Homo sapiens: one gene and its partners. The protein of the gene in region 2 interacts with the protein of the main gene of each other region in a pairwise test. Each region holds a gene or a part of one and is shown on either strand. Other genes may lie near its edges. The genes, in order: SOX5, TEX11, NECAB2 and USP15.

What was found.
Region 1: the proteins of TEX11 (region 2) and SOX5 interact in binary tests that used the Homo sapiens proteins (3 or more experiments, as listed by UniProt).
Region 3: the proteins of TEX11 (region 2) and NECAB2 interact in binary tests that used the Homo sapiens proteins (3 or more experiments, as listed by UniProt).
Region 4: the proteins of TEX11 (region 2) and USP15 interact in binary tests that used the Homo sapiens proteins (3 or more experiments, as listed by UniProt).

The regions. Positions count from the first base shown.
Region 1 is NC_000012.12:23,528,991-23,533,694, reverse strand, and holds the end of SOX5 (transcription factor SOX-5), read left to right. Parts: 3' UTR 1-4,191; downstream 4,192-4,704.
Region 2 is NC_000023.11:70,528,404-70,534,712, forward strand, and holds the end of TEX11 (testis-expressed protein 11), read right to left. Parts: intron 1,597-6,309; coding exon 1,432-1,596; intron 785-1,431; coding exon 692-784; 3' UTR 537-691; downstream 1-536. UniProt on the Homo sapiens protein: Regulator of crossing-over during meiosis. Involved in initiation and/or maintenance of chromosome synapsis and formation of crossovers.
Region 3 is NC_000016.10:83,971,242-83,978,278, reverse strand, and holds part of NECAB2 (N-terminal EF-hand calcium-binding protein 2), read right to left. Parts: intron 6,129-7,037; coding exon 6,104-6,128; intron 1-6,103. UniProt on the Homo sapiens protein: May act as a signaling scaffold protein that senses intracellular calcium.
Region 4 is NC_000012.12:62,263,404-62,270,440, forward strand, and holds part of USP15 (ubiquitin carboxyl-terminal hydrolase 15), read left to right. Parts: intron 1-7,037. UniProt on the Homo sapiens protein: Hydrolase that removes conjugated ubiquitin from target proteins and regulates various pathways such as the TGF-beta receptor signaling, NF-kappa-B and RNF41/NRDP1-PRKN pathways.

The DNA of each region.
Region 1 (4,704 bases), on a different chromosome or scaffold from region 2:
AAGAAAAATGAATTTCTCTTTACTTCTCTCCACCTTCTCCATCTCTCTACTTTAAAGATGGAAGTCTGTGCATGAGGGGAAAGAGGGAAAAAGAGCCTGTTTTTAACTTCCTTGCTATCCACCACAAAATAAGCAATTATTTTCTTTAGAGGACTTTATCTATTGCACACCACACTACATCTTTGAGCAAGTGCCAAATTTGTACTGAAGTGTTGACCAAGTTCATTTTTTCTCTTTACTTTTTCCTTTTCCTTCTTAAGTTAGGACAGTGTTAAATCTTAGACAATCCCTTGAAAAACCTGAAATACCAGCAGCTGGTGAGATTTGACTTTTTTTTTTAATGGAAACTGTAGGTGCTGTTCTCAGGTGAAAAGAGAGAGAGAGAGAGAGACATAAGAAATTTAGAGAAAAATATTTTCTGATCTTGGATTTTTGTGTGTATGTATGTATGTGATTATGGTACTAATAATAGGAATAACGTTGGACCATTGTGAGTTAAACCCACATCTGGGGATGAAATCCCACATCCTCCCAAGTGACTGGTCTAGAAATAATCTTGACCTTGACTTTGCACTTCAAATGACAACTTAACCAAGTATAGGGCTCAGAAATTATATTTTTAAATGTCTGATTATTATTGGATGGATCAGGTGGCCCTGTGTAATAGAGGTGTGCATGTATAACATGGAAGCTACTAGCAAACTGCTCCCAGATGTCCTTTCTCCCTGGTCAGTTGGTTCCATTAACGTTTGCTACTTAGTGATTTTTGTTTTTCCTGTTGATATTTTGAGCAAAACAATCATTGTTTTCATTGAATATATTTGGCCATTTTTTCAGACAAATAGAATTAGCTTATTTCTTCAACATTCCATCCTTTCCCGATCAGGAAATGAAACTGATGATTTTATAAGGTATTTTTCACCCCTCCATGAAGTGAGGTGGAGGCCTTTAGCATTTCAGAAGTGTGGGCCATATGTAGTTCATGCCATAAAAAGTAGGATTTAATTAAAAGTCATTGCAGCCCAATAAAATGGAGCCTGGCTGCACCCAGGGATCCTTGCCACTGCTCTTCCCTTGCTGTCAGATTAATCCACTGAAGTCCAACTTTGGTTCAAGCAGAGTATTTGCAAAGAGCAACAACTGAATGTGATGGGACTGCTTATGTAGATTTTGCCAGCCAAATGCCAAGGCAGTTGTAGGGCCTGTACAAATAAATGCAAAATCATTTCAAGTCAATTGCCATTATTTGTATTGAAGTATCAGATAGATAGTAAATACTGCAACTAGTAGCTTGATGTGCTATAGTTTTCACTCCAGTCATCATTTTCCTATCTCACCCCCCGAAACACCACCCTAAAGTTGGATTTTTACATATAAATAAAAAAAGAATCCCTTTTATTTTTCTCTCTCTCAGAAGACTTGCTCTGGGGTTTTGCTTGGAGGAGCTGATCATATCCTGCATGTCAGAGATTTCATTTTGTTTGTTTTTCTGTTTGTTTGTTTTTGATGACTTTATTTACATTTGAACTGCCTCTTTTTGCTAGTGTTGTAATGATGATGATGATAAAATAATAATAATAATAGTAATAATAATAATAATGGTCAGCTGTTCCCAGATTAGTAAGTTATGTATAATTTATTTTATTTCTCCCTTTCTATTTTATTCTGCTCTGATTTGGAAGTGCAGCCAATAAGCTGTTAGATATTTAAAACAAATTTCCATCTCCAACTCATATATGTATGTATATGTATATATATATATACATATATATACACACATATACACACACACACACACATTTACCCACAATTTTACTTCTCTTTCCGTAAGTTTTCTCTTTTTTAAGAATTTTGGCCCCAACAATATCAGTTCTGATGTTTAAAACAAAGGAGTGAATTAATAGGAGGGTCGTGTTCAATCTTAATTAACTTATGCTCTCATCACTCATTTTAGTTATTTAATTGCCACAGTCATCTAGAGCCAATTTTTTTTTGTTTTTGTTTGTTTTGTTTTTAAGCACTCTGGATAAGGAAAAAATAGACACTTGTTTTTATATCATTTTTATGTACAATGTGAAAACAGATTTTTAAAAAATTTGTTCTCTGTCTTTGTTAACAAATTCCTTCCGATTTATGTGGGTTCACCTCTCACGTTTGCTGGATACTTACTTTACACCATGTTATGAAAGATGCTTTGTTTTCATTTCATGAGTTTGGGCTACAAGAATACTTTGTTTTAGCTCCAGGTAGATGCCATTGAAGGCATTCATGGCTGAAATCAATTCTAACACACTTACCGATGAATTGACAACACTTTGGTGTTTGGTCTTTTTTTTGTTATATTTTGTTTTATTTGAAGGGGAAAACAAAATTGTTAATGGTGACTTTTAACTGCTGAAATTCAAAATTTGATTTTAGTTAGGTTTATGTCCGAGACTAAACTGTGCATGAACCGAAACAAAAAGCAAGTTCATACCGCTGCATTCTGTTCTCTTGTTCTGACGGTTAATTCACTGGACATCAAATTTTCTTTGCCCTAGTTTTCCCCAAAAGAAAACAAAAGCAAAAATAGTTATATTAATGTTGAAAGTGCTTTGAAGTCACTTGATAAAAGGTGCTATGAATAGCAACTTACTGTGTTACTACATTGCCTTTTTGGCATTGGTTGATTTATAATTTTGGTAAAGGATCCTAAAACCCTGTATTCTTTTTCTGTGCCCCATAATGACCAAAAAAGATAAAGAAAATGAGAGTAAGATCAAAAGATCAAACTAAAACATAAACAGTCTCCTTCCTGTCTGCTTTCTTACCTATCTGTTCACACTTTATCTCTTTCCCTTTCTCTCTCTCTCTCACATGCGCGCGCGCGCGCGCGCACACACACACACACACACACTTGCCCCAACACTGAGAAATAATCTTGCCAGAATTCTGGTTTTTATAGTTGTTGTAGTCCGTTTCTCTAAAAATAGTCCTGTTTTCATATGAATCTAAGAGAACATTACCGGAGAAAATAAAGTTACTCATTTATAGTTACTAATAATAAGTTAGTGATTAACTTACCACAATTGGATAAAATATAAAACTATTCTTCAGCACATTTATACCTAAATTAGTGAAGTCCATTTGTGAAGTTCATTTGGCATCTGCAGTTAAGAGTTAACCATGTATAAAATCCCTCCCAAAGAACATAATCATCGTTAGAACCAAATCCTCTTATAAAGAACAAATATAAAAAAGTTTTCTGTGGTGAAGCTATTTTATAGATTTGATTTCCGGAGTAGAATTTTACCTTAATTCACTTAAAGAAAATTAACCATTTTTTGGTCCAACTTCAGATATTTTCTTAATCCAGAAGCTGTGACTGTTCCCAGAAGAAACCTCTTATATCACATTTAAAACATAAAAAATAATTACACTTTCACTCATTCTAATGGGTAAATTGTTGAATTGTAATAAACAACTGTATATTTACAAACAGGTTTATAAGGTATTTGTCTATCAAATTAATAATAAAATAAAACTTACGGGGTCTGCAAGGAAAACTATGAAGGCCACTTAAAGTGGTTCAGGTATCCCTTTGTCTTGTAGGGCATAGCTGTTGGTTTAGCCAGGCTTTTACAGTATTTAATTTTAAAGTATCCTATAACTATCAACTTCCCAGGTTGAAGACGATGTGTTGAGTTTCCTACTGATTGATTGATTCCTGTCCTCCCCAGTGTTTCCGTCACTGGTTCACTAAAACAGTATTTATATAGCTCCACTGGCTCTAAAGCTCTTAGTCCTTCTAATATTTTGGATTTTACAAGTAAAAATGGAAAAAAAATAGAAAAGAGACAATCAAATGCCTGGAGCTTAAAACAAAGTATGTGCAACCTACCATCTCACTTGAAATTTAATAAAATAATAAGTAATTATGTAAATATAACATAGAGTTATAGATTTATATTTTGTTCATAACACATAGTGTAATATAAGTTGTATATTTTCATGTTTTTGGTTTTATGTTATCATTCATGCCACAATAAAAATAAAACAGGAGTTTATGTGCTCTTAAAAAAAAGATGTGGGTTGCCACCAACCTGTTTTTCGTTTTTGTTTTTTGTTTATTTTATTTTATTTTTTTGCATTCTCCTTTTTCAGTATTACTGCCATGCAAGGCACCAATAAAAACAGCAAATGTGTTCTTTACTTATTATACTGTGTTTCTTTTCACAATTATTGTTATGAGGGTGTAATTAGTTTTATTATGAAAAGAACAAAAGTATGGAAATTTAATTTTGTTTTTAATATAAATAATCCCTCTTATTGAAGTTGACTTTAAGAACTAAAGGTTTAATTTTTAGCTGTGGACATTCCCAGAAAGACAGTCAGGACTTGATATAATGCATTTCACTCAGACAGATCTAGCTTCACCATACTGTCAAAAGATACTGTTCTTATATGTAATTGATTCAACACAATTGAAAACCCAACAGTCTAAAGCACCTTTAATATTGTTGTTTTCCCTGGCTGGACACTATCCTTGGGTGGGGGATGGGGGGTTTCTATGCTTTAGAATTGTGCTTTATCCTTTCGTTTGTATAGAAGATTTATAAATTTCAGATCATGAAATTACTAAGAACTATGAATAATTTTCACCTCGCTGGTATCTCATTTTGAATAATGGATATTTCTGAATTGTTTAACATTAGCCTCTCAGTT
Region 2 (6,309 bases):
GTCTCCTGGGTTCAAACGATTCTCCTGCCTCAGCCTCCCGAGTAGCTGGGACTACAGGCACGCGCCACCATGCCTGGCTATTTTTTTTTTTTTTGTATTTTTAGTAGAGATGGAGTTTTGCCATGTTGGCCAGGCTGGTCTTGAACTCCTGGCCTCAAGTGATCTGCCCACCTCAGCCTCCCAAAGTGCTGGGATTACAGGCACAAGCCACTACGCCTGGCCTGGAATAAGTTCTGTTAGAAACTGGGCAACAGATTCTCAAGGATGTTAGAGAGAGATTTCATGAATCAGATAAATGCTGGCCCTGGTGACCACTAAGGTCCTTCCAAATAAGAGTCTGGGATTCTTTGATATCTTCAGGGATTAGGAATTTGAGCACTTTGGGAATAAAATGCAATCTGTGTTGAACTGGGATGAACATTCTCTTTTGTTCAGATGGGGCATAAACCATCTTGCTCTCACATGGTCTATTTCAATATCATCCTTAGCACTTTGGAAAATTCATTTGTCCCCCAGAAATGAGCTGGTCACCAAGGTAAATTCAGCATGCTTTTATTTTAGAAAGTTTATTCAACAACATGAAAACAGGGTCTGAGCAAACAGAAACAAAAGCTCAAGAGAAACTCTGGCAAAAATTTAAACAGTCAGCATCTCGGGACAATGTATCTTCTTCATGTGGCCATGAGCTTGCCTAATCTGACTTGCTCCAGTAGCCATGTTCATGAAAAACTGGGCCCTTGTTGTTACTCAATGCTTCCACAAGCTGACTATACAGCATATTCATCTGGGAAAGAGAACAACAAATAGATTTCTTGAGGGGAAAAAGAAATGTGGGAAAGCTTCCCAGACCCACGGTGATGGCATGAAAGTCTAACCGTTACCTTCGGAGATCTGAAGCATCTCAGATTTGGGGAGAAAATACAGTCCTCTCTTGAGGAAAAGGAATCCCCTATTATAAGGGAGAAGATACTTAACTATAAAATATCCTTTGCTCTTATTTGGTAACAAGGCTTTTTCTCTACCAAACCTCTCCTGGTTAGCCAATGGCCCAGAACTCTGCAACTGAGAATAGTTCCTGGAGAAAATGCCTTTTTCAACAGTTATTGCTTTGAGCAGAGGCCAGTCCTTTCCCACATGCACTGGCACTGACAGTGATGCATCTTTCCAGAGCTCACTCTTGGCATTCCTCTTAATTAGATTCCATTTGCTATCCTTAAATTTCCCCCTGTTCTCTGTCCTTCTTGGTTTTTGCTCTAAGGAATTACTGTTTATGGTCTCCTGATTCTTGAAGTTATGTGGAACCATTGAGAGGAACAATGAGCAAGATCCTTTCCTAGCCAAGGAGGATGGGGTTGAGTCCTTGTGGAGAGCCCAGCCATAACCTCTTGCCCCCTAGGTCATGTCATCTGCCCTAGCCCTCTCCCTCCTTACCTGAGTTTCATAGCTTTCCTTGAAGGAGGTAAGGTGGTTAAGGAAACGCAAGGCCAGGCCACACCACTTTTCAGCAGATGCATACTTGCTCCTGCTAAACATAAGTACTCCGGTATTCCAGGACTTGACCATCAGCCAGAGAATCTCCATTTCTGGGTAGTCTTTCTATAATCCAAGAACAGAAATTTTGCAGTTATTACTGTCACAGTTCATTGTGGCACTACCTGTATCCATGCTATGTCCCTTTATTACTAAACAAACAATAGGAGCTCTGCTGATGTTTAGGAAGGTCTGTGCTCCTGGAGAGTGCAGGAGGAGAGCACTTTGAAGGTTTGTCAGCTGTAGAATGTTCCATAGCAAGATCTCATGAAGAGACGTAAACCGAGGTCCTCTCTGACTGAAGGAAAGAATTAGAAAGATTCCTAATCTTCCTGAGGCACGAGAAAAACTTGCATACTGTTTGGGGCTTCCCTTGATTCTGTCTTCAGTCAATTACCTCCCTAATACCTACCTCTACTTTTCGGATAAGGTTGTCAAGAAGCAGTTTTATTGAATTTCTTAATTTCTGTCACCAGAATTAGTCCATATTTGGAGTAGAAATTATATTCATCTTCAGAGTTAACGATATCTACCTAGCTATGAACACAGCACACATTTCTAAGATGGTCCCTTAGCCTTATCAGTGGTCTTTAACATGACTAATCACAAGATTATATTTGCTTCTTCACAATACTTTGCAATAGTGAAAAGTATTAGTCTAAGAAGCTACTTTCTTGGTTCTTGCATAGGAGATGGAACACAAAGAAAGCATTCATGTTAAAGCCCCAGAAGGGAGAAATGTGATAGGAGACACATTAGGCAGCAGCTTTTTGAGAGTGTCAAGAATGCTGTCTCAGCTGTCATCCTTTCATTCATTTGGATCCAAAAAGAAATTACTATACATAAAACACTGTGATAATGAGGGCACTAAGAGGGAAAAGACAAAACTTTTATCCTAAAGGTTGTGCAATGCTTTTGGGGACACAAGGCATCCACATGTAAAGACGACTTCACAAGGTATGTGATTAAGAGACACAAACATTAGGTGCTCTCATTCAGTTAAAGAAATGAGCACTAGGATATTCCAGTCAGAGGCGGTCTAGTCTCTGCTTGAAACACTACTCCTCATCCTTGTCCACTTCATAGACTTATACTTTTTCTTCAAATTCACAAGAACAGTTAGTTGTCTGTTCCCACAGTGAGCTTTCCATTCCTCTAATATAACTTATGTTATATTGTTTTGAAATGCTATGTATTTATCTCCTCCAGACTATTGAGTTCCTTGAGGTACAGGGAATTTTTCCTGTGCATTTTTGTATCTTCAGAGTCCAGCACTGTGCCTGGCACATAAGAGGCACAACAGATGTTTGCTGAATGAATGAATGAACAAATGAATCAATATCCAGTCAGATGCCACCTCCTCAGTGAGGATTTCCCTGGCTCTCCACAATTTCTTGCTCAAACCTCTTTGCCCCTCTGCTACTTTGTTCACAGCACCATAATAGTACTTTGAACACTGTACTGCCTGTCTCCCCCACTAGGCAGGGAGCCCCTTGAAGGTAAAATGACATTTGCCTTTGCTTGGCACAGTGTCTGATACAGGGTATGAGTGTTGTGATTTTAATGTTGTGAATGAAAAAAATGACTTAAACAAACAAACAAACATGATCTTAGGGTAGATGAGTAGGATCTACATATACAGAGATTATATGAAATGTGCAGAATAGGCAAAGCCATAGAGACAGAAAGGAGATTTGTGGTTGCCAGGGGCTGGGGAAGGGAGGTATGGGGAAGGACTGCTAATGGGTATAGAGTTTCTTTTGGGGATGATGAAAATGTTCTAGAATTAGATAATGGTGATGGTTGCACAATCTTTTGAATATACTATAACTCACTGAACTGTATACCTTAATGTGAGTTTTATGATATATGAACTAAATCTCAATTAAAAAGAAAAATATAGATATTCAGAGAAAGAGAAGGGCATTCCATGTGGGTAGAACAGAATAAATGAAGACTTGGATTGTACTTGAGAACAAGCATGTCTTAGGAAGACCAAGAGTTCTTTGGCCTAAGCAGACGATTTATGTAGAGGAGTTAACGGGAAATAAGACTGGAAATGTAGGATGGAGCTTCCTAAGCCTTTCCTCAATGTTCTTCCTCAGAACACTAGTGTCATGAGAAATGTTAACAGATGGTCTATGAAAATAGAGTTCTTTAGTCAAATACATTTTGGAAATGCCGCATTCTATATATCACCCTTTTGGAGCATTATAATGCACACTAGTTCACTGAAAGTTTAGGGAAGTTTTACAGTAAAGAAACCATGGAACTTTGTCTAATCCAGGGTATGTGGAACGTTTGCTAACATCTTGTGGGCTGGAGTGTTAAGGGTTTTTGCATTACAGGCTTCAGATTTTGAAATTTATCCTGCTGGCAACGGGAAGGCACTGAAACTTTTTGAGAAGGAGAGTGATATGATGAAAGTGTAGTTTTAATAAGATAGAAATGCCAGTGGTGTTTAGAACAGACCTCCGTGTGGGAAAACACAGACAGGGAGACGTGTTTAAAGGGAGTTATGGCCTGGCGCAGTGGCTCACACCTGTAATCCCAGCACTTTGGGAGGCCAAGGCGGGCAGATCACCTGAGGTCGGGAGTTCGAGACCAGCCTGACCAACATGGAGAAACCCCGTCTCTACTAAAAATACAAAATAGCTGGGTGTGATGGCACATGCCTGTAATCCCAGCTACTCGGGAGGCTGAGGCAGGAGAATCGCTTGAACCCAGGAGGCGGAGGTTGTGGTGAGCCAAGATTGTGCCATTGCACTCCAGCCTGGGCAACAAGAGTGAAACTCCAAACTCCGTCTCAAAAAATAAAATAAAGGCCCGGCGTGGTGGCTTGTGCCTGTAATCCCAGCACTTTGGGAGGCCGAGGCAGGCAGATCACGAGGTCAGGAGATCAAGAACATCTTGGCTAACATGGTGAAATCCTGTCTCTACTAAAAATACAAAACATTAGCCGGGCGTGGTGGCAGGCACCTGTAGTCCCAGCTACTCGGAAGGCTGAGGCAGGAGAATGGCGTGAACCTGGGAGGCGGAGCTTGAAGTGAGCCAAGATCGCACCACTGCACTCCAGCCTGGGCGACAGGGCGAGATTCTGTCTCAAAAAAATAAATAAATAAAAATAAAATAAAATAAAATAAAAGGAGTTGTGTGATCTAAGAATGAAGTGATGAGGGTCAGAACTAAAATAGTGACAATTTAGATGGACGGATGTAAGAATCATTTAAAGGAAGAATCAATAGAATTTGGTAACTGATTTGATATGGGGAATGACAGGTCAAGTGAAAATGGCTCTAAGGTATGTAGTTTGAATGGCTGAAAGAATGCTGGCATCACTGAAAGAAAAAATTGAAGGACATGTTTCTGGGGATAAGGGACAACAATAAGTTCTATTTTAAACAAGTTGGCTTGAGGTAACTCTGGAGATAAGCAGGCTGTTGCAGATATGGATTGGAACTCAGGTAATAGTTAAAGTGTATTAATTCACTTAAAGGACAGAGTACAGAATACAGAGTAGCAAAGAGTAGAGAATATTGGAAATGTTCATAGTTGGGTGGTAAGAGGGAAAAGAACGCAGAGGAGTGGCGAGAAAATAAAGGACAAAGGAAAACAGAATTTCAATAAGGAGGCAGTGGTCAATAACGAAGGCCAGGGAAAAGAGACCATCATATTTGCCTAGACGGTGGTAATTTGTGGTCTTGTAAAGTGTGGCTGACAGTGCAGAATGTGAGGGAAAGAGTGGCTCAAGATGAGGACAGATAGGTTAGTAGGATCTTGTATACCACATTCAAGATTTTGGTCTTTATTTTAAGAGCAATGGGAAACTACTAAAGAGGATTTCAAAAGGTCATGCATACTCAAAAATGTAAAAGATTGGCTGGGCATGGTGGATCACACCTGTAATCCCAGGACTTTGGGAGGCCGAGGTGGGCGGATCACGAGGTCAAGAGATCGAGACCATCCTGGCCAACATGGTGAAACCTCATCTCTACTAAAAATACAAAAATTAGCTGGGCGTGGTGGCGGGTGCCTGTAGTCCCAGCTACTGGGGAGGCTGAGGCAGGGGAATCGCTTGAACCTGGGAGGCAGAGGTTGCAGTGAGCCGAGATTGCACCACTGCACTCCAGCCTGGTGACAGAGCGAGACTCCATCTCAAAAAAAAAAAAAAAAAAAAAAAAAAGTAAAAGATCACCTTGGTTGCTGGGCAAAGAAAGGAAGGAAGAAAGCAAGAGTAGATGTGAGGCCAGTTAAAAGGTTCCTGAGATCACTAAACTAGCTAAGATAAAAGGTGTGTAACTTGAACTAGGTTACTGATGGTGAAAGATAGGAGGAAGTAGATGAATTTGAGAGATATTTGGGAGGTCAAATTGATTGATAGTACTTGGTGATAGATTAGAAGTGGGAGTGAGGGAGGTGCTGAGGATGACTCCTAGATGTCTGGCTTGGGCAACCAGAAGAATGATGGTGTCATCCAATGAGTTAGGGAACACTCGAGTTTTATTTTAATTTGCATTAGTTGCCCTCATGCCCAGCATTGCTTATGAAAATCATTAATCCTCAATAAAGAAATGCATCCACACAGCTACTGACCTGAAAGCCACATGGACTTGCCTACGTGTAATACAAATCAATGTCAGCAAACTGAGGTGTTTGCTCTGATGGTTTTTGGGGCCACATATTTTAAACCAGTTTTCTCTGTCCTCAACATCTTAATACATATGGCAGCCACGTAGATCTCTAACTGAATCGTAGGTATTCTGGAGCACAAATGCCTGT
Region 3 (7,037 bases), on a different chromosome or scaffold from region 2:
CCATTTTAGATAATCCCTACCCACCCAGCTAATTCCCACACTAACCAGTAAACTCCAGTACACAGAGAATCATGCCTCATCCAGCTAATTCCCAGACCAATGCCTGTTTACAGATAATCCTCAAACTAACAATAATGCAATAGCTAGCTTTCTTGGGCTCACCATGCACTCAACATTTTCCATGCGTTCAACAAATATAGAGTATCTGCCCCCTGCCAGTGAATTTTCTCTCAATTTACATGGCCACCTGGAGGCAGGTGCTATTTAAGATAACCCACTGTGAGCAACTTGTCCCATGTCACACCATCGGTATGAAGTGGATCCAAAAACCAGCAGCTGGATGAGCCACCACTCCATAGCTTCCAAACGCCAAGTGGTCTCTGCATGCTCCCAACCCCAATCCCAGCCCCTAAGCCCTGACTCTCTCAGCACTGTTCTTAGAGTACAGAAGAACCCTTTCTTCTCCGCCCCATCTATGTGGCAAACTTCAGGTCCTTCCCTGAGGCAGCATGAGATGGCTGCCAATGGCCGGCATGAGGTTCTCAGTTACCTCCTCTCCCAGGCCACAGATGCAGCCATCTAGATGCCAAGCCATGCAGGAAGGAGGTGCCAGGCCTGGAGGTGCCAACGCTCTGGCCAGAGGCTGTGCTTCTGAGGTGGAGCTCCACAGAGGGGCCTCCACAGCTCCTCTGTGGAGGGGCTCTGTGGAGGGATGGGTGGGACACATGCCACCAGTCCCACCCATCGCCTCACCTTTTCCCTTCACTTGCAGTTGCTCTGGGGACACTTTTGGCCCTACCAGGAAGGTCTTGTGGGTTTGGATCAGATTGGGCCACCAGGGGAGGTGGCTTAAGAACATCAGGGACTCTGGGAGGCGGTCCCTAAGCTTCCACCCTCAGCTCCTTCCACCTGAACAGACCTGCTGAGCAAATGCCAGCAAGCTCATCCCCCACCTGCCCTGCAGCCACCTCCCCCCTCCTCAAGGATCTGTTCCTCCTTAAGAGAAACTATGTGAGTGGCATGGAGGTCAGAGACAAGAGGGAGCCCATGACAGTTCCTGGCCCCCAGCCTCTCTGCATAAACCCCTGGCATTACTTCCAGAGGATCTGCATTCAAAGCTGGGTGCTTGGGACAAGGGCCCTGAGAGTCCACATGGCACCTTCCTATGGATTAGAAAAAGACTCTCCTTTCTCTGCCGAGAGGATGAGACCAGTGTCAGTGCACATGTGTTGAAAGCGGATTGCAGCCTGGATTTGAAACCCTCCATTTCCTCGGGTGGGTGCCCTTGTGCAGCGCACAACCTGCCTAACCCGACATGGCAGACGTACTTGGGTTGAGAATGAGTCATTCTTAAACTTTAAAGGCTCCAGTGCTTCTGTCTGTGCTCCCAGCAGCTCTGCTGGAGCTCAACACAGGGTGAGAGCATAAGCTCAGGAGAGGGGGGGTCCTCAGATCTTGCCAAGGTTTCATGCCACCACTTTTCTCTTTAACCCCATAGAGCATAAAGTATCAGAGACCGGTAAAGAATATGAACGTGTGGGCACGGGGGGCTAGGGCCAATATCCCAAGATGCCCCCATCGCAGCTCAGATTTCAAGGTTACAGTGGGAAGAATTTCTGTCTTTCAAAGGAAAGGCCAAAAAAACCCCAATCCAACCACACATGCACAAACCAAAGACCCAAAACCTAACAACTAAAAGTCCGCAAAGTCAGCCACGAGATAAGTGAAATCGAAGTTGTTGCTTTCTGTGTTCTGTGACAGAGGATGCCTTCCGAGTGTCTTCGGCAAGCCTGAAGATAAAACCCAGGAATCCCAGTGTGGAGTCACACCACACGTGGAGTACCTTCCACGGACTCACTCCTTTAGTCTTCTTAACACTCACGACACAGGTAGTACTACCACTTCCATGTTAGAGAGGGGTAAACTGAGGCACAGAGCCCTTAGGGTACTTGCCTAGGTCCTACAGCTGAAGCTTGAACCCAGGCCATCTGGCTCCCAAGTCCAGGCTCTCAACCTAATCCAGGGGTAGGATCTTGTGGCGACATCGCCACCTACCCAGCAGGGGGTGGGTGCTGGCTCAGGCACCCCCACTTTGGGTGAGGGGCAGTCACCATGGGCATGACAGGGGTTGTGAGCCCCAATCCCAGCCTCCCTCTGGCTGGCTCATCTCCCCACGTGCCTGTCCAGGTACCTTGGGCCCCCTCTGCACACAGGGAGAGCAGGCAGCCAGAGACCAGCAAGGTGCCCCCTCGGCACACAGGGAGAGCAGGCAGACAGAGGCCAGCAAGGTGCCCCCTCACTAAGCTTTCGGCTGACATTTATCCTGAACGCCTGATCACGGCCCTAATGAATTCACTAATGAGGAAAAAACATGCCCTACGTAGGCCCCCAGTCCAATTAGACAGGCCAAGCGGGCCCGCGCTGGCACTTTTGCCAGAGACCCCAAGCGGGCCGTTTGCAGGTGTCTTTGCTAATTAGCACAAACTCACTCTCTGTCTCCATGACCTTTCAAATGCCAAGAGCCTGTCAGCCTGTCAGCGTCCATGTCCCTGAAGGGAAATGCTGTCTGCCACTCAGCCCTCTGCCACCCCCTGAGTTTATGTCCCAGGCTGCCAGTCAGGCCCCTCATGCTAACCTTCCCATAGGGACTGGGCATCCGGTATCCAGCTCAGCCAAACAAGTCTCTGTCACAGGAGCCACCCTGACAGGGCAGCCCTGAGCCTTTGTTCCTGTAATCTCTAAGTCCTAAGGGCAGCCTGGGGGGTCCTTTGAGTTTGCACCCCATCTCCCGCTCCCCTGAGGCATCCCATCCATCCTTCCTGTGGACACGTGAGGCAGGGCTAGCGTCAGTGTTGAGCAGTCCTGTGTGTGCTTGTGGGCCTATCGGCCTCCACATCTGCACCCCCTGCACACCTGTTCTCATCCCTGCACACCTGTTCCCATCCCCGCACCCACACCTCCCTGCACACCTGCTCTCATCCCTGCACACCTGTTCCCATCCCCGCACCCACGCCTCCCTGCACACCGGTTCACATTCCCGCACCAACACCTCCCTGCACACCTGTTCCCATCCCCGCACCAACACCTCCCTGCACACCTGTTCCCATCCCTGCACCCACACCTCCCTGCACACCTGCTCTCATCCCTGCACACCTCCCTGCACACCTGCTCTCATCCCTGCACACCTGTTCTCATCCCTGCACCCACACCTCCCTGCACACCTGCTCTCATCCCTGCACACCTCCCTGCACACCTGCTCTCATCCCTGCACACCGGTTCACATTCCCGCACCCACACCTCCCTGCACACCTGTTCCCATCCCTGCACCCACACCTCCCTGCACACCTGTTCCCATCCCCGCACCCACGCCTCCCTGCACACCTGCTCTCATCCCTGCACCCACACCTCCCTGCACACCTGCTCTCATTCTTGGATCCACACCTCCTTGACACCTATTCTCACCCCTACACTCATTCCTCTTTCCCCAGCCATTCTATTCCCACACCACTCCCCTATCTATACCCACACCAAGTCCCATCCCCACTCCTACAAGCTTTTAAGCTGCTGTGTTGAATCAGAACCTGCCTGCACCGCTGCCCCCCGACCATGTGAAGAATATCACGTGCCATCTCCGAGCCTTGTTTTCGTCATCTGGAAGGAGGGTGGGGGTTGATACTTCTTGTCTCAGGAGGATCACAATGAAGATTAAAGGAAAAAGCACATTCAAGTCCTGGTGCATAACAGACGTTCAGTGACTGCTGGCAGCCTCCCCCAGACCGAATTCCCTGCTGAGCACAGAGGAATCAAACCCCTCTGGACAAGCCACACCTGCGGACTCCCATTTCCGAGGCATTTGAGGCAGAGCAGCGGGGACTTATTGATATCTTCAATGAGCGAAGCCAGGAGAGCAACTATCTATCCTCAGACAGCCCTCTGAGGTGGGTGCTGTAATTATTCCCATTTACAGATAAGGAAACTGAGACTGCAGAATTTGGTGACTTGCCTGAGGCCAGAGCCGGTACGCGGCTGAGCCAGGACTTGAGCCTAGGCAGTCAGGCTGGGGGACCTGGGAAGCTCTTGCTGGAACCCGCATCTCACACCCACATTCACCCTGGTGACAGCCCCTAACGGTCACATAGTGGTGGCTGGTAAGATGTAAGCCCCAAGGAGAAGGAACAGGCTCGGCCTTTGAGGAGGCTGCAGTAAGGAAACTGAGAGTCCCACAGCTGTGCTCAGGGGGTGGACACATGGCCTCTGATGGGGGGAGCCTGCAGCAAGGACAGAACCCCATCTGTGCCCGAGGGGGCCAGGCACCACCTGCCCAAGTGTATACACTGCAGTGGCTCCTGCAGAGCTGCACACTCAGGAAGCCACACACGCACACTAACTGCACACACACTCGGGATGCACAGCCATGGCTAGAGGCCCACGCTGGACACACGCATTCCCAACAGCCTCACGCTGCTGAGTCACCGAGATACGCACAGCCACGCTCTCACCAACAAACACGTCCACCAAGTCTACAGACATTTACCGAGGACCTACTGTGTGCTGGGTATCAGGCCCGGGACAAGGGACAAACCCAAATCCCTACCTCTCAACCTGCTGGAGGAGCCAGGCCAGCACACAGGCAATGACGCTGAGGGCTCCGGCGACCCCATCTCAGGGACAGCCCCCTGATTTCCCCTCCTCATCTCCAAGGCTTTTCAGGCCATGATGCTACGGCTGTTTTTCCAGAGCCACTTCATCTCCCTACGTCCCTCTTATTCCTCCTCTGCTCCGTATGGAATCACTGCTGATGGTCCTTCTTCCCCAGAGGCCTGGGAGTGGTCACTGTCACCCCCCAGGGATGCAGGAGGCCAGGGTGGGAGACTCGTTGGAACTGATTCCAGCCCAGGCCTGTGCACCTGCCCTCCCACCATGCCCAAGGCCTCCAACTCCACCCTGCAACCGCCCTGGGTGGGAGCCGTCAACAGGAACTCCCAGGGATGAGGCGGGTGCTGGAGACCCAGGCCAGAGCTGCCACCCTCAACTGCAGCTTGTGCAGGAGAGGAACCGGGGCCAGAGGCGTTGGGGACCAAGGGCCCTGGGGCAGGTCACAGGGTCTCTGTTGCGTGCTCTTCCCCTGCCACAGGCTTGGTACTTGATGTGCATTTTCTCAATGAATGAACATACCGGGAGCACGCGATTCTCTTTAAAAACATTTGTCACCCACACCGCCTCTCTGGCTTTTCCCCAAAACCCAGGGAAGGAGGCAGGGCAAGTGTTATTGCCCCACTTTACCCACGGGAAAACCAAGGCCCAGAGAGGGAATCTGTCTTGGTTCAAGTCCACGGTGAGTTGCGTTGCAACTGTAATAATGATTCTGGTATTTTTAAGAAGGTGCTTTTTGTCAGCCGAGGCTCAGCTGGGCCGCCTAAACGTGCTTATTCTCTCAAGGCCTGGGCTCCTTCTGCAAGTGAAGCCCCTCCAAGGAGTCGGGAGAAGTGGAGCGCTATGAATTCCGTGGCCACAACAAGGCGCTGCTCACATTTTTAAAGAGGCTGAGAGAGAAAGGGAAAAGGGCCCCGGTCTTCAGGAGAGCCTCCGTTTCCTTCATGCAGCTGGGCAACCCTGGGGCAAATTGCTTAACCTCTCTGGGCTGCTATGGTGTCAACAGAGGCAAGAGCACTGACTGCTCAGGTTGCTACGATGAAGAACTGCACCAAGGCTTGTGAAGGGCCTAGCGTGAGGCTGGCGGCTTCCTTTCAAGGAGGGTTTCTGGGCCCCAGCCCGGGCTCCTCTGGTCCAGCCCAGCTAGGAAAAGGCCTAAAGTACACCCAGCCCTTACCACGGCCAGTCATTGTTCTTGGCATCACAGACAAGACTCACTGAGCCCTTGAGTGGAGCTGTCCCTACTAAGTAGGCCCTACTAGGATTCCCGTTTTACAGACAGGGAGGTCAAGGCACAGAGCAGCAGCAGGATTTGGCCTTCTAACTTCAGACCCCTGCACTCCAAACCTTTAGGTTCAAGGTTGCGCTTGTCTCCTATCCCTGATCCCTTCCCCATGAAGCACGAGGACAGAAGGAGTGGGGCGGCCGTCGGCCTGGAAGGGAAACTCACCATTTTTGTCCGCACGGCGGAAAATCTGCAGAAAAGAGAGGCGGAGTCAGCCCTGGGCCAGGGAGAGGCAAGCGCTTCCTGCAGCCTCTGACCGGATACTGGGATCCTTCTCTTCTCCCAGGAGCAGCTTAGGGTCCTGGGAAGCTGAGCCCCCCTTCCCTCTCCCCCTCCCCGGGCTGGGATCCAGGGGGAACTGATGAGGGATGTTGCAGACAGAGGCCCTCCCCTCACCCACGTGGAAGCGGCTGCCAGTACCACCAGCCTGCTCCCAGCCACGCTGACACACACACGCAGGCCCACGGCCATCCCTGCAGGTGTAGGTCCACAGTCATCAGTCCACGTGGCTTCACCCACCGCCAAACGCTCAGCTGCACACAACCACACTCCGAATCAGTGTCCCAGGGAGCGCCACAACCTTTACCACTGCAGTCCTTCCAAAACCCCTGGTGTGTTTCCAGGGAGGTTGGGCAAAGTCCGACAGAGGTGTTTGCAAGGCCTGGTGACAATGCCAGCCACGGGCAGGACTGCGTTAATTTTGGGGTGCAGGAGGAGAAACAGGACGCCAAGAGTTCAGAAAAGCAGCCGCAGACGAAGTTCCGGCTGCATTAGGCAGGGATGGGTGGAGGGCAGCTCCAAGGCTGGCCTGAACCTACAAGACCAGGTGCCTCCTCGTTCTGCCTTTCCAGTGACATCTGAATCCGTGGGACAGAGCTGCTCCCCTTTCCTCAAGGTCTGGCTGGCAGGTGCTGCTTGCCAGGCTGAGGCTCGAAGGCAGCTTTCCGCCCCTTCCAACACCATCGCCTGGAGAGCTTTCAAAACCTCCTCAGCCCGGGCCACACCCCAGGGTGACTGAATCAGCTGCTGTGAGGCCCACTCTGATTTCAGCATTTTTAAAGCCTCCCAGGCCCAATGTTGACACCTGTGCGCTAAGACC
Region 4 (7,037 bases), on a different chromosome or scaffold from region 2:
TGCAGATAATGACTGTCTCATGGTAACTCGGGTAACTAACTTCCATACCTAGGCAAGTATAAAGATTTATTTCATTCTGTGTAAGTACTACAGTTTCTCTTTATTTGTAAGCAGTGAATGATTTTTATCTAAAAACTGATTTTCTAGAGATGAAAATAAGTTACACAAGTGTGAGATGAAGAGAAACATACTTTATGATGTATTTAGTTCTAGACTTTATATTGAGAAGTAAATCAAAATTAATACGAGAGTAATACCTTTTTAAAAAGCAAGAAGAAGGTAGCACTGATTTGTATAAGGAATAAAGCAGTCTCAAAATGATATTTGTTGATCTGTGTTTCAATTTCAACAAGAGATCAGAAAAACACGAACAAAATTTAGAGTTTAGGAACTATAGGAAAGAGATAAATGAACTAGAATTGTATCGCTTAGGATGAATTAAAAACAATTTTCAGATACATGGTGGTTTCTTCTGATGAGACAAAAAGATAATTTGCTTAAGGTACATATGAGTATTTTAGGAACATATTTAAGGAATGGTAGTTAATGAGTTACAAAGAAAATTATGGGTTATAAAATACTCTCTTTGGAAAAAAAGTTTTTGAAACAGAGTCTCGCTGTGTCGCCCAGGCTAGAGTACAGTGCGTGGTCTCGGCTCACCGCAACCACCTCCAGGGTTCAAGTGATCCTCCCACCTCAGCCTCCGCAGTAGCTGGGCCTGCAGGCACATGCCACCACGCCCAGCTAATTTTTTATTTTTAGTAGAGACAGGGTTTCCCCATGTTACCCGGGTTGGTCTCGAACTCCTGGCCTCAAGTGATCTGCCTACCTTGGCCTCCCAGAGGGCCGGGATTACAGGTGTGAACCACCTGCAAAATTTCTGGCCTGGAAATTTTTAAAGAAATGGGCCTATTATGAGTAAGTAAAACATAACCACAAATCATCCAAAGCACTGCTTCGTTTCCACCATTTTTATTAAATGTTATTCATCTGCCAATCATTTTCAGTAATTTTTATGTGTGATTATGTTAAGTGGTAATGTGTAGTTAACTTTTGCAGTTTAGCAAAACATTGCATGCCATTTTTGTATAAACCCTAATAACTGTAGTAGGTAACTTTACAGAGTAAGTAATTTGTGTGTGAAGTCATTTAAAATCTCTGTGACATTTTCATTTCAATAATTGCCAAAGAATCTGATCAGTGAAGTTTTAGACAAGAGACATTGATTTCAGTTTTTAGAGCTTTCTGTCCATTCCGACTTTTACTTAGAAATCTTTGAGGCTTAATTTTATTTGATCCCTTATGTTCGTGCAACTTTGAAACTAAAAGAAAATAACCTTATACTCACAAATCCCTTAATAATGAAAAGGAACACTATTACTCAACATGAATTTCAAAATATTTAGTGTATACTTAAAGAAATTTTTATATTACTATTACTTTTAAAATTAGTTTCAGTAGTGCCAGGGTGTTTACGACCAGAGTAGGGTATATACTACATCATTTATAGGAAATGAAACTAAAAGGAAAAACTTCTTCAGTCTTGGTAAATTGGTGAAAACAAGGACAGAGATAGTGACCTTAAGGCATGTTTCACATCTTAGATGCTTAAAAATCTAGGAAAGCAACTTTTCTTAATTTAAGCCTTTTTCGTAAGTTTTTAAATGACTTCTGTTAGTGAGTCCAGGGTTAATGTACCCTAATAGTCCAGGAAGGTCCAGAGCTAGTCAATGATTTCGTTTATCTGTTTTGTGAAATTAAGGCTTTTTTTCCTAAATTATACCATTTTCCTGTTAGCACATATAAGGCATTAAATGACCTTTTTGCAAAATGGTTTTGTGACAGTTAACAATTTTGCTTCTACGTAAGTGTAACAAGATAAAATCAGTTTGTCAGGCCATGACCTGTAATATTACATTTAAAAACACTATGTGCCAGGTACTGTTATAAATGCATATTGACTTATTTACTCATCACCATATTACCACAATTCTGGGAATCGGTGTTATTCACATTTGACAAAATAGGAATCATAGGCTCAAAAAGGTTTTCACATAGTGGTATAGCTGGGATTTGAACCCAAGTAGTTTAGGTCTTTGGTTTGTGCCCTTAAAGCACTGTACCACATTGCCTCTGATTTTATTTAAAAAAATTTTTTCTAGAGACAGAGTCTCGCTTCATCACCCAGGCTGGAGTGTAGTGGCATAGTCATAGCTCACTGTAGCTTCAAACTCCTTGGCTCAAGCAATTTTCCTGCCTCAGCCTCTGAAATAGCTGGAACTACAGGTGTGCGCCACCACACCCAGCTAATTTTTAAAGTTTTTGTGGAGACGGGATCTTACTGTGTTGCCTAGACTGGTTTGAAACTCCTGACCTCAAATGATCCTCTGACTTCAGCCTCGCAAGTATTAATAGCTGGGATTACAGGTGTGAACCCCTATGCCCAGCCTCTGTCTCTTATTTTAAAGATTCATTTTTTAAAAAGTAGATTCACTTTAAAAAGAAAAGAACCTATTTTTCTTTTTAAAGGAAGTCTATTTTATATTTAGTAGCAGAATTCTACCATTTGCCTCTTGTGACTGTTCAGTTTAGATATGATAGAACATGTAGGAAATCTTAACACCTTGCTTCTGGATATTAAAACATGCTTAAAGATTGATAGGTGAATAATTGAATGTACAGAGCAAATGTCATTTTGATCCACAAGTACATTCAGACAAAAAAATTTGAGGTCATTTACTATTGAGCTTTTGAATTTTAATTGTCTATCAATAATCATAAGCTCTTATTAGAGATGATATGGCCCCTTCACATATAGTTTTACAGAAATAACCCATGAAGCATATAGTAAGATCTTGTAGGCTATTTTGTTTCGGTACTTGGTCCATATTTTAAAAGTATGGTATTGGTTTACTATAAGCCACAAATACATACGGCTTTCTTCTTGGACTTAAATCCATATGAACCACTCAGCACAGAAAATGCAAATATGAATGCATTATTATGTTCACCAACTGATTTTTTCCCTAGAGATAACTCTTAAAGAATTTTTGAAGTGAAAGAACATTTAAATTAAGATAGTGGAAGATACAATGATAATAAAACAGTCAATTTTGCTATCTTAGTCTTGAATTTATCTTATGATGTGAGTTTAGAGTGATTCTTCTTTTTTTCACTGAAAATCACTTCATTAATAAGTCATGATTATTGACAAAAGTAAATTGAAACCATTGGGCATATTGGTAGGGAAATAAGGGGAAGATAGAGAACAACTGATAAAGGTTGATTATGTGCATTACGAGATTTGATCCTCAAAAGAAGGACCAAAATATATATATTTATATGACTTATAGATGAGGAATCTGAGAGAAATTAATTTGCTTGCTCATAGTTTACTACCAGCGGACATTTATTAAATGCTTAGTCTGTCGCAGCCACTATTTTAAATGCTTTACACTTACATAGCCTTTAAAGTACATGCTCTTATTACACTTCATTTTATCTTTGATGATTTCAGAGCTGGTTTAAATACCTGGTTTATAAAGATTTAAAGTACTAGATACTATCTAATACTAAGAATAGATCCTTAGTATTAAAAATGGTTTTATGCTGTCACTACTCGAATGTAATTCAAACAATATTTCATTAAACCATGGGAATTTCTCTTTTTTCTTAGTCCTTGTATAGAATTTTTCAACAATTACTAAATACTTTTTTTCTTCCCTGAGTAATGTCAGTCTAGCTTGTTTCTTTTAATTTCCTCACTTACCACTGTAATTCACATTCTGTGTCTCATATTCATTCCTCTGAAGCCACTTCGCCAGACTCGTTCTCCCATTTATCCTTTAAACAGGGGAATGTAGATCCTTTAGATTTTATCACCCAGTTTACACAAAAGTCACTATTCAAGAAATCTAGCATAAGCCTAGTAAGTAGCCTCAGTTTTGGATACAGATTAAAATTATTTGAGGGAAGGGTCAAAAATGGCTCCTTACAAAGAAGGAAATAAGTTCCAATTATAATATAAAACAGAAAACCCCTGTAGGATTAACCTGCATTTGATTATGTCTAGACTGCCTTTACTACTTCCATCACTAAGATTCTACATGGTTTCCTTATAGCTCTCCAAAAAGAAAAGAGTAATGATGCCTTTTTTTCCTCCAAGGAATGGAGAACTAAGAATGCTAACTGTCCCTTCCATTCTCCCTTTAGTTTTGAGAAGACCCAGATATTAGCGTGGTAATTCCCCACCATAAGAGAAAATCATTTAGCAGAAGTACCAGTAGCAAGGACTTCTTTGTGAAGGAAGTCAAAGATCTCACAAAGAAGTTCAAGGGTGGCTCTGAGGCCAGGGTATTCTAAGTTTAGAGCCAGTTAAATCAAGACCTGAGAACATTTAGAGACAAAGTTACTTAACTGAAAAGAGCATCAAGTTCCTTGTTCCAGGTAGAAAACACCTGGTAATCTGGATTGATTTCTGTTATTTACCCATATGTTTTTACAGCTTAACAAAGTTTAACAGGTTAGTCAAGAGATTTGCCTTTGATAAAAAGATGGGAAATTTATATTCATACATTTGAATGGATTTCAAGCTGAAGAACTTTTTAATTCTCAGGAGAGATGTAGCTAAGTATTTATATGTACCACATAGTTGTGGCTATGGTTTACAATAACTTATTACTCATTTACTATGTTAAGAGCATTTTAAAAGTTCTCTAGATACAGGTTCCATATATAATGTAATATATTTATTCCAAATATATTACATATATGAAATACATGGTAGTATTCTCATTTTACCAGTACAGAAACTGGGATAGTTAAATGTATATGGTCATAACACTTAGTCAGTGGTAGAGCAGGAGGTCTAACTTAAAGCTTGCATTTTAAATTCTAAGTGTACTGCCTGCCTATGTGTGATAGAGCCATACCCAGATTATGGAAGCAACTTTTTGAAAGACAAATACTTGAAAGTATTAAAATCAAGAAATGACAGCTTTGTAATACTTGTTAAACACATTTTCATTTGTTATTAATATCAAGAGCCTCTAGAATTTTGTGAGTCTTCTTGTTTTAGCCTTGTAGTCTCAGCAGTCTCATTTCTAATTAACATATCTCTGTTTTGATACAGATAGTGTCTCCCATTTCCTGCAAATTATTTGCTTTTTCCTGCTTTTGGGGCCTTTATGCCCCATTTCTGTTGTTTCAGATACTTCTTAAAAATTACTGACTTTCATTTCAAAACCTAGTTCAAAGTCAGTCTCTAAAACCACCTCTAATCTCATCCAAATTTGTGGCCCCTCCATTCTTTGCTTTTAAAATATATATGTATATATAAAACAGCTTTATTGTGATGCTATTCACATACCTTACAATTTGCCCACTTAAAGTGGACAGTTCACTGGGTTTTAGTATACTCGAAAGAGTTGTGCAGCCATGACCATAATCAATTTTGGAATCCAAAAAGGAACCTCATACCCATTAATAGTCACCTCCCATTTCTCTCCCAAACTCCTCTGTTCTAGGCAGCTACTAATCTATTTTCTGTCTTTATATATTTGCCTATTCTGGATATTTTATATAAATGGAATCGTATAGTATGTGCGATTTTTGCATCTTGCTTCTTTTACTTAGCATACATGTTTTCTAGGTTCATGCATGTTATAGCATATATCAATGTTTATTTTTACTGCTGAATGATACAGTCATGAGTCACTTAATGACAAGGATAACTTCTGAGAAATGTATGGTTAGGCAATTTTGTCGTTGTGTGAACATCTTAAGGGGGTACTTACACAAATCTAGATGGGATTGCCTACTACATACCTAGGATGTATTGCCTATTGCTCCTAGGCAAAAAAAACCTGTACAACATGTTACTGTAGTGCATACTGTAGTCAATTCTAATACAATGGTAAGTATATATATATGTGTGTGTGTATAAATATATATATGTGTGTGTGTGTATATATATATATCTAAACATAGAAAAGGTAGAGTAAAAATACAATATTATGATCTTTTTTGTTTTTAGAGACAGGGTCTGGCTCTGTCACCCAGACTGAAATGCAGTAGCCCAATATTGGCTCACATTGCCCTTGATCTCCTGGGCTCAAGCAATTCCACTGCCTCATCCTCCCAATTAGCTAGGACTACAGGCAAGCACCACTGTGTCTATTTTTTATTTTTATTTTTTTGTAGAAATGAGGATCTTGCTGTGTTGCCCAGGCTGGTCTTGAACTCCTGGCCTCAAGCACTCCTCCCACCTTAGTCTTCCAAAGTGTTGGGATTATAGGCATGAGCCACTGTGTCTAGCCAGACATAATGTGTCTGTTATTGACCTAAATGTTGTTATGTGGTATGTGACCATATTCCATTGTATAGATATAACACATTTGATATATCCATTTATCAATTGATAGACATTTGAATTTCCAATTTTTGCCTATTTTGAATAATCCTGCTATGAACATCCATTACAAGTTTTCATTTCTCGTGTATATACCTGTAAGTGGAATTGCTAGGTCCCTGTTTAACTTTTTAAGGAACTGCTAGACTGTTTTTCTAAGTGGCCGTAATTTTACATTGCCACCAGCAGTGTATGAGGGTTCCAGTTTTTTCACCTCGTCAGCACTTATGTTCTTTTTTTTAATATATAGCCATCTTAGTGGATATGAAGTAGTATCTCATTGTAGTTTTGATTTGCATTTTCTTGATAGGTAATGATGTTGAGTATCTTTTCACCTGCTTATTGGCCATTTGTATGTCTTTTGGATGTCTGTCCAGATTCTTTGCCCATTTAAAAAATTTGGTTATTTTGTCTTTTTATTATTGCATTGTAAAAGTTCTCTAGATACAGGTTCCTTATTAAATAGTTAATTTACAAATTTTTCTCCCATTCTGTGGATTTTCTTTTTACTTTCTTGGTAGTGTCCACTGAAACATGGAAGTTTTTATTTTATTGAAATTCAATTTGCCTGTTTTTTCCTTTGTCACTTTTGCTTTTGGTATCATGTCTAAGAAGGCTTGGCTTAACT